2 linked regions of the Homo sapiens genome follow. The protein of the gene in region 2 purifies or fractionates together with the protein of the main gene of each other region. This does not show direct contact. Each region holds a gene or a part of one and is shown on either strand. Other genes may lie near its edges. The genes, in order: REEP5 and ZDHHC7.

Region 1 (4,024 bases), on a different chromosome or scaffold from region 2:
CATGGTGAAACTCTTTCTCTACCAAAAAAAATACAAAAATTGACCAGGCGTGGTGGCACATGCCTGTAATCCCAGCTACTCGGGAGGCTGAGGCAGGACAATCACTTGAACCCAGGATGCGGAGGTTGCAGTGAGCGGAGATTGTACCATGGCACTCTAGCCTGGGCAACAGACCAAGAGTCCATCTCAGAAAAAAAAAAAAGGAGGTCAGATTGAGAAATCTCCCAGAAGAAGTACAAATAAATAGATTTTTAAAAAAACCAACCCTGTCTCTACTAAAAATACAAAAATTAGCCAAGCATGGTGGTGGGCGCCTGTAATCCCTGCTACTCAGGAGGCTGAGGCAGGAGAATTGCTTGAACCTGGGGGGTGGAGGTTGCAGTGAGCCAAGATCATGCCACTGCACTCTAGCCTGGGCGACGGAGCAAGACTCCATCTCAAAAAAAGAAAAAAAAAAAAAAAGGCTAAGACCAAAGACAAAAAGAATTATATATCCATAATTAACCAGAACTAAAACTCAAGATACTACCATTTATGATGGTGGTTGGAGTGATGGAGCTTCCTATATTTAATTTCCTATATCTAAATTTCTTTAGATAAAATTGTTTAAAAGAGTAGCCAGGTGCAGTGGTGTGCGCCTATGGTCCCAGCTACTCGGGAGGCTGAGGCAAGTGGCTTGCTTGAGCATTTTTTTGTTTTTGTTTTTTTTGAGACAGAGTCTCGCTCTGTTGCCCAGGCCTGTCTTCTTGTTTATAATCTGAGACAGAGCCACAGATGCACAACATTCAAGCATTTATTCCTACTTCTTCTATACAGGTACTGAGATGGAGTTTTAGTGGTAGCAAGACCAACATACCTTCAGCATGTAGTAGAAGGGGAACCATGACAGGAAGATATCAGAGAAGAATTCAGCAATGCTGAACACACCATACACTACCCAGTAGGTCAGCCACTGGGTATCATCTTCTTTGTTGGGACTCTCTATAGCTTTAATTCTGAAAGGCAGTACAAAAGAAAGTATATCATTTGGTAAGATATCAATGAAAGATTTTCAAATACACTTTCATAACCTGTCCTCTGATACCACTGAGAAACTTAGGCACATGTAGGCACTGTGTCACTAGATGCAAGAGTACAGCTTAAAGACTGGAAGCAATGTGGATATCGGGACAAGCCATTATAACCACTTGTTTCTAGTCTCCTGGTCACCAGAGAAACCAGCACCAGCTGTTACTGCCCTGGATCTCCACCCTGCCAAAGCCTCCCCACAAGTCCTAGAATATACCACTAGTGACTGGGAGCTAGAGCAATTTCCACTCCCAAGCTGGGTCCTGCCACGAGGGATATATCAGGAAGAATTCTCTCGTGATAACCAGGTTCTTATGTACTTTTAATAATTGAGATATATCATGGGTGAATAAGAATTTCCCATAAAGCAACATTTGGAACATAGGTTAGGTACTGCCCAAAATCCACAGCATATTTTATAGTAAACGGGTGAAAACAAACCTCATGGTGTCTATTTAGTTCAGAATGTCTTTAACTGATCCACAGGCTATGGACTTTCCTCCTCTCCTCAGTTAATAACAGGACTTTCCCAACCCTAACTATTGCTTAAACAAAATTCATTCTGCAAATGGATGGAAATACATTTAAAATAATTTTCTAAATCACAGAAATTTCCTTCAGTCCTAGGAATCTCATTATTCTAAACCTGAAGCTCCACAATTTCTTATCCTAACAGATCTAGATATTTATCGTAACTGAGCTGGACTGAAACAGTAAAATAAAAGAACTCTGAATCTTGTTTAGCCTATGAAACAGGTTAACTACTGAAAATACATTGACAGGGAGCTAAGCTATGAGGATGCAAAGGCATAAGATACAATGGACTATGGGGACTTTGGGGAAAGGGCTGGGGGTAGTGAGGGATAAAAGACTACACATTGGGTACAGTGTACCCTGCTCAGTTGATGGGTGCACCGAAATCTCAGAAATTGCCACTAAAAACTTATCCATGTAACCAAACGCCACCTGTTACCCAAAAACCTATTGAAATAAAAAATTTTCAAAAAGCAAATACATTGGCTACTCCATAACATCAGCTCCCCAAAGAGACAGTCAGGCTGCTAAATCATGCTCAGTCACTCACTAAGAAAGCCCTTGTACAGTTAATTAGAAGCAGCTATGTGTGTGAGTTTTAGAAAATAACCAAAAGGGGAAAAATTGTAGCTCAATGAGATGATTACTAATGAGGAAGACAGAGAGAGGAACAAGTAATAAGGTGAATGTTGCTTTGAACTTCAAGACTAGGCAAAATTTTTATTTTTTTGAGACAGGGTCTCTGCACAGGCTGGAGTGCAGTTGCACAATAATAGCTCACTGCAACCTCAAACTTCTGGGCTTATGTAATTCCCTTCACTTCAGCCTCCCAAGTAGCTGGTACTACAGGTACACACCACCACACCTAGCTACTTGCTAAATTTTTAGTAGAGACAAGGTCTCACTGTGTTGCCCAGGCTGGTCTCGAACTCCTGGCCTCAAGCAATCCTCCTGCCTTGGCCTCCCAAAGTGCAGTCTGGTGGCTCCCACACCCAGCCCCAAATATTTCAAAGTACAAGAATCATATAAAATGAATTTAAGAGAGCTGATTATTAAAAAATGGCTTGTAATGTATGCACAAAGTCTGTATTTTTTTAGCTTCCTTCAGATAGAAGCTGGCGAATGTAATAGAAGGCCAAAGGAAAAGTGTAGACAAGCATGTTAACCAAAGAACACAGTATATCCTTTATGTGTAAGATTTCTTCTCCCGCTGTGTTTCATTTGGTATAGTATGGCTTATCCATATTTAATTGGATTTATTTAATTATTAGTATAATAAAAATTTGTTTCCTGTACATTCATTCTGGGCAGAGGAGATACGTAATTACATTTCACTCAAGGTCTTAGTTTTGTGAACGCAATAGCTCACAACTATGTACTTCCAAAAGAAGCAACTCTCAGGACACACCTGGGAATTAAACAGTCTTTTCTAGAATATGACGTAAAAACCTCAAAATGTGATGGGACTGTCATTGTTAATCCAGTGGCTTTTAAATTCTTTTGGCCACAACCCTCGGTAAGCATACATTTTACATCATGATCCAGTAAACAGACATCTTCACATAAAAATATAAACTTAAATAGATATTTCCTGAAACCATTCTGATATTTTAAATTCCATTCTATTTCATTATTTTTTAAATGTTAGTCAAGTTCCACAGATTGAAAAACAGGAAGCCTAACAGTTCAGCTCTTCTAGGAAAAAAAAATTCTTTTTTAATTCATATCTACAATATGAATTCTAAAGTCCCCATGTTAATATACTAGAACACTATATAGTAACATTGAAAAGTAGAAATAAAAGAACTCCAAATTGAATACATACACTGATCACAACTTTGCAGAAAACCAAGGCATATGAAAGAAGCCAGGAAAAGGCCAATGAGTCTATTAAGCTAAAGAGATTTTTTAATAGATCTTCTCATATTATTGAAGCATTTAATTGTTTTAATTTAAAATAGCACAATGTTCAATTTAAAAAATGTCTTTATGTGTCATAACAATCACAAACTACCCAAAACAAGAAAAAAGGGAAGAGATGGTCTAGCTCACTCAGGAACGTGAGGTTCAAAAAAGTGAAGTGCCCCATGTAGTCATGGTGAGAGAAGAAAAAAGCTTAAAACTGAGGTTTCTGGCCGGGCACAATGGCTCACACCTGTAGTCCCAGCACTTTGGGAGGCCGAGGTGGGCAGATCACCTGAGGTCAGAAGTTCAAGACCAGCCTGGCCAACATGGTGAAACCCCACCTCTACTAAAAATACAAAAATTAGCCGGGCGTGGTGGCACATGCCTGTAATCCCAGCTGCTTGGGAGGCTGAGGCAGGAGACTCACTTGAACCCGGGAGGCGGGGGTTGCAGTGAGCCGAGATTCCACCACTGCACTCCAGCCTGGGTGACAGAGCAAGACTCGGTCTCAAAAAAA
Region 2 (3,431 bases):
ACGACGAGACGGTAAGCTTTGTTCTCGGCTGTGTGGACTTCATATGTGGTCCAAGCTTGAGTAAATGAAAAGTCCTAATGTCAACAATAGGTGCCTGTGGACTGACTCGGGAACGTAATGGGACGGTCTTGATGAGCTGCAACCAGCTCCCTGTGTTTGCTGTTTCTTTCATTCTGGGCAGTGCATATTTCTAGTCTCAGTTTGATTTGCAAGTCAGCAGAGCCAGGCAGATTCCCAGCTCCCAGTGCAGTCAGTAAATTTCAGGGAACTGACTGCCTTTAGGGCCTGGCTCTGCAGGCCTGGAGTGGCGCTCAGTAAATGTCTGTACACAGTAACTAACGAGCGACAAATGTTGGTGCCTGGCTGGGAGGGCCATTGTGGTAGTCTGGGCTGGCCACGTGGCTGCAGCCGGGCTGGGCTCACAGAGGCCACGGGGTCTGGATCGGGGCAGAGCTGGGAAGGAGAGTTCACTCACCTACCCTCCATCGAGCCCACACTGTGCTTGAGCACGGTGTGATTCTGAGGCTTGGTGGGGTCTGCCGAGCTTCCTGGAGCCGCTGCCACTTGCTTTTCTTTCTGCTTCCAGGAGATCGAGCGATTGAAAAGTGAGAAGCCCACATGGGAGCGGAGGCTGCGATGGGAAGGGATGAAGTCCGTCTTTGGGGGGCCCCCCTCACTCCTCTGGATGAATCCCTTTGTGGGCTTCCGATTTAGGCGACTGCCCACGAGACCCAGAAAAGGTGGCCCGGAGTTCTCAGTGTGAGGCGTGGCTCATCAGACTGAAACTTGCTCACAGACTTCCAGTTATTTATTTGGGGTCTGAAGGATATCAACAGCTCATCTGTGACCAACAGGGCAACTGGAACCTACACAAACCAATTGCTTGCAGCAAGCAGAGTTTTATATATTTATAGTCACAGATGGCAGAGGAAGAGGCTCTCAGTCCCCACCTGTACAACAACGGAAAGGTGTGTGGCCACACGAAGAAGCCAAACGCCGTGGCCTCCTGCAGAGCTGGGGCTTCTGTGGAGAATACTTCGGGTTATTACATGGGTTATTCAAATCCTGGGTCCTGAGCTGCTGTTTCCAATCATGAAGAAAAACAGTGAATCCAGTGAACAGGGATTCTCCAAGCAGTCATTTCAGGGGGCTCCTGCTGACCCCGCCACTCAGCAGTGCACTCCCCGGATCACAGCAGGGCGTTTACATAGAAAGACGTTTTGGTCTCGATTAGCTCCGATGCTTTGCACTGAAGTTGCAAAAGATCTGTGCACTGAACAGTGAAGGTGGCTTCCGGCACACTCCCCGCTGCCCCGGAAGAGACATCCTTTGACCCTCTCAGCAAGTCTGTGTGTGTGCGTGTCTGTGCGTGTGCGCGCGTGTGTGCATGTGTGTCAAAATTGCCAGTGTTGTTTAGGCAATGTAACATTTACCGGCTGTGTACAGCAAACAAGCTATTTTTTAGAAACCGACGTTTCAGGGAAGAGGGGAGAGAGCCGCGGGGTCCTGCCCGTGGTTACTATGAATGTATTGCTGTTGGAGGACATCTCGATCCAAAGAACAGCCGTTCCTGTGCGGCCCTTCGTTGCCCTCCTGCTTTCATTTTTTAAAGAAATCTTGAGTGCTTGAGGGCCTTGGAACTGATTTTTTTTTTTTGTTCCAGCCAAATTAGCAGTGTATAAATGGCACCTAGGTAAGAGCAGAGCTGCGGCTCGGTGACTTGATACTTGGGGCAGCCCGATGCTGTGTGTGGGGCAGGGGAGGCATCCTTACTGGAGAGGCAGGGCCCAGCCATTGGGCACCTCTGGGAAGGGGAGGGGACCATGAGGCAGCCAGCCCCTGGCAGGGGCGACTGTGCCACCGCAGGCAGCGCTCCAGTCGGGAATGGCCAGGATGGCGCCCTCTTGTTGGAGTTTTTGGTTAGCTTTTACGTTTTCTTCTCCACCCACGGCACAGGTGATAAAATAGGATCCTTGGTGCGGAGCTTAAAATTATGCCAGAAAGCCAACAGCTCCCCTCGTGGGGCCTTGCCTTAAACTTGCCTGGTTTGTACATTTTTTGCCGGACGCATCAAGAAGCAATCTGTGACAAAGTCTGAGGGTCTTCCTTTATGCTTGCCCTCCACACTAAGAGAAGTTGGCGTCTCCCTCCTGGGAATTGTTTTGCCTTTCTGTTCATCTGTGAACTGTTTTTTGTTTTTAATTACTCTGTACCCCATCCGAATCAGGGCTTCTACCACTGCTGATGCAAAACCACAAAGGGACCTACCTGAGCCACCGTCCTAGCCAAGCGAGCAAACCTGCAGGGGGTTTGGAAGTGGACTTGGTCACCGCAGAAGCGTGTGCGCCGTTGGGGGAAGAGCTGCGTCACAGCCAGAGGGACAAAGTGTGGGTGATCCTGGAGACGCCAGTTTCCGAGATTGTTCTGCATATTCATTTGCACATTGTTGTCTGGGTTGGACATGCGTGTGGGCTTCAGTGTGAGGCTTTTAATATGTATATCCTGTTATCAATAAAACAATTATCCAAGTGGTTGAATCCTGTGAGACTTGGCAAGTGTGTGCAAATCAAGTATACTTGACTTTTCAACCTCTTCTTTCAATGTAACTTTTATATGAAATAAAGTAATCAATTAACAGTTCTCAAATGGCTTCCAAAGCGCCCGTTCTTCCTGGATGGTGGTGTTTTCAGGGGGTGCCTTTCCGTGCTTCGTGGGCCCAGCCCCAGGCTGTTAAGGTCACTCCCAAACAGTTTCCAGAAACTCTAAATGCTTTTGTGCCCATGACAAGTGACCTGGGCACTCAAGCGCGACTCACAAATGTTGCCCAGTGAGTACTGTTGCTTGTTGAATGTTTAATTCGACTCCCATCGTTTTACTTAGTCCTTTTTTTAGTGCACGTTGAAATAAAAACAATGTTTCAAAATCTCCACAGTTCAGAATCTCAAGTACCTACAATTTGATTTTAATTCATTCAACAAATTTGTCTAACATTTGCACTGAGGGAACCAAAATGCCCACTTACCTTCCAGAGGCCAGATGGTCAGTGTGTGCCGCAGCCCTGCCTCGCTTACCTTTCAGAGGCCAGATGGTCAGTGTGTGCCGCAGCCCTGCCTCGCACGTGCTGTGCCTTGGGGCTCCTGGTGGCATTCCAGACACGCGGAAATGAGAAGGAGACTCGAACACGGAGGCGCACACCTGAGCCGGGCGGCTGCATGGGCAGCAGCCCTCCAGCTTGTGTTTGTGGCTCTGCCGAATTTTGCTGCAATATTATTTGTATTCCTTATATTAGATTGTTATGTAGGCTCATTGTATAGAAGGATGACGCTTGCATTAAAACAAAACAAAAATATCCTCCAAATAGGAAGGTGGCTAAATCCTATCTTCTATTGTACATGAACTTGGCTTGGGTATGGAAGCAGGGGAAAATAGCT

Evidence for each region.
Region 1: the proteins of ZDHHC7 (region 2) and REEP5 purify together in Homo sapiens (affinity purification with mass spectrometry, with the first as the bait; one large-scale study listed by BioGRID). This does not show direct contact.

What each region holds. Positions count from the first base shown.
Region 1 is NC_000005.10:112,901,524-112,905,547, forward strand, and holds part of REEP5 (receptor expression-enhancing protein 5), read right to left. Parts: intron 996-4,024; coding exon 857-995; intron 1-856. UniProt on the Homo sapiens protein: Plays an essential role in heart function and development by regulating the organization and function of the sarcoplasmic reticulum in cardiomyocytes.
Region 2 is NC_000016.10:84,973,675-84,977,105, reverse strand, and holds the end of ZDHHC7 (palmitoyltransferase ZDHHC7), read left to right. Parts: coding exon 1-11; intron 12-586; coding exon 587-763; 3' UTR 764-2,931; downstream 2,932-3,431.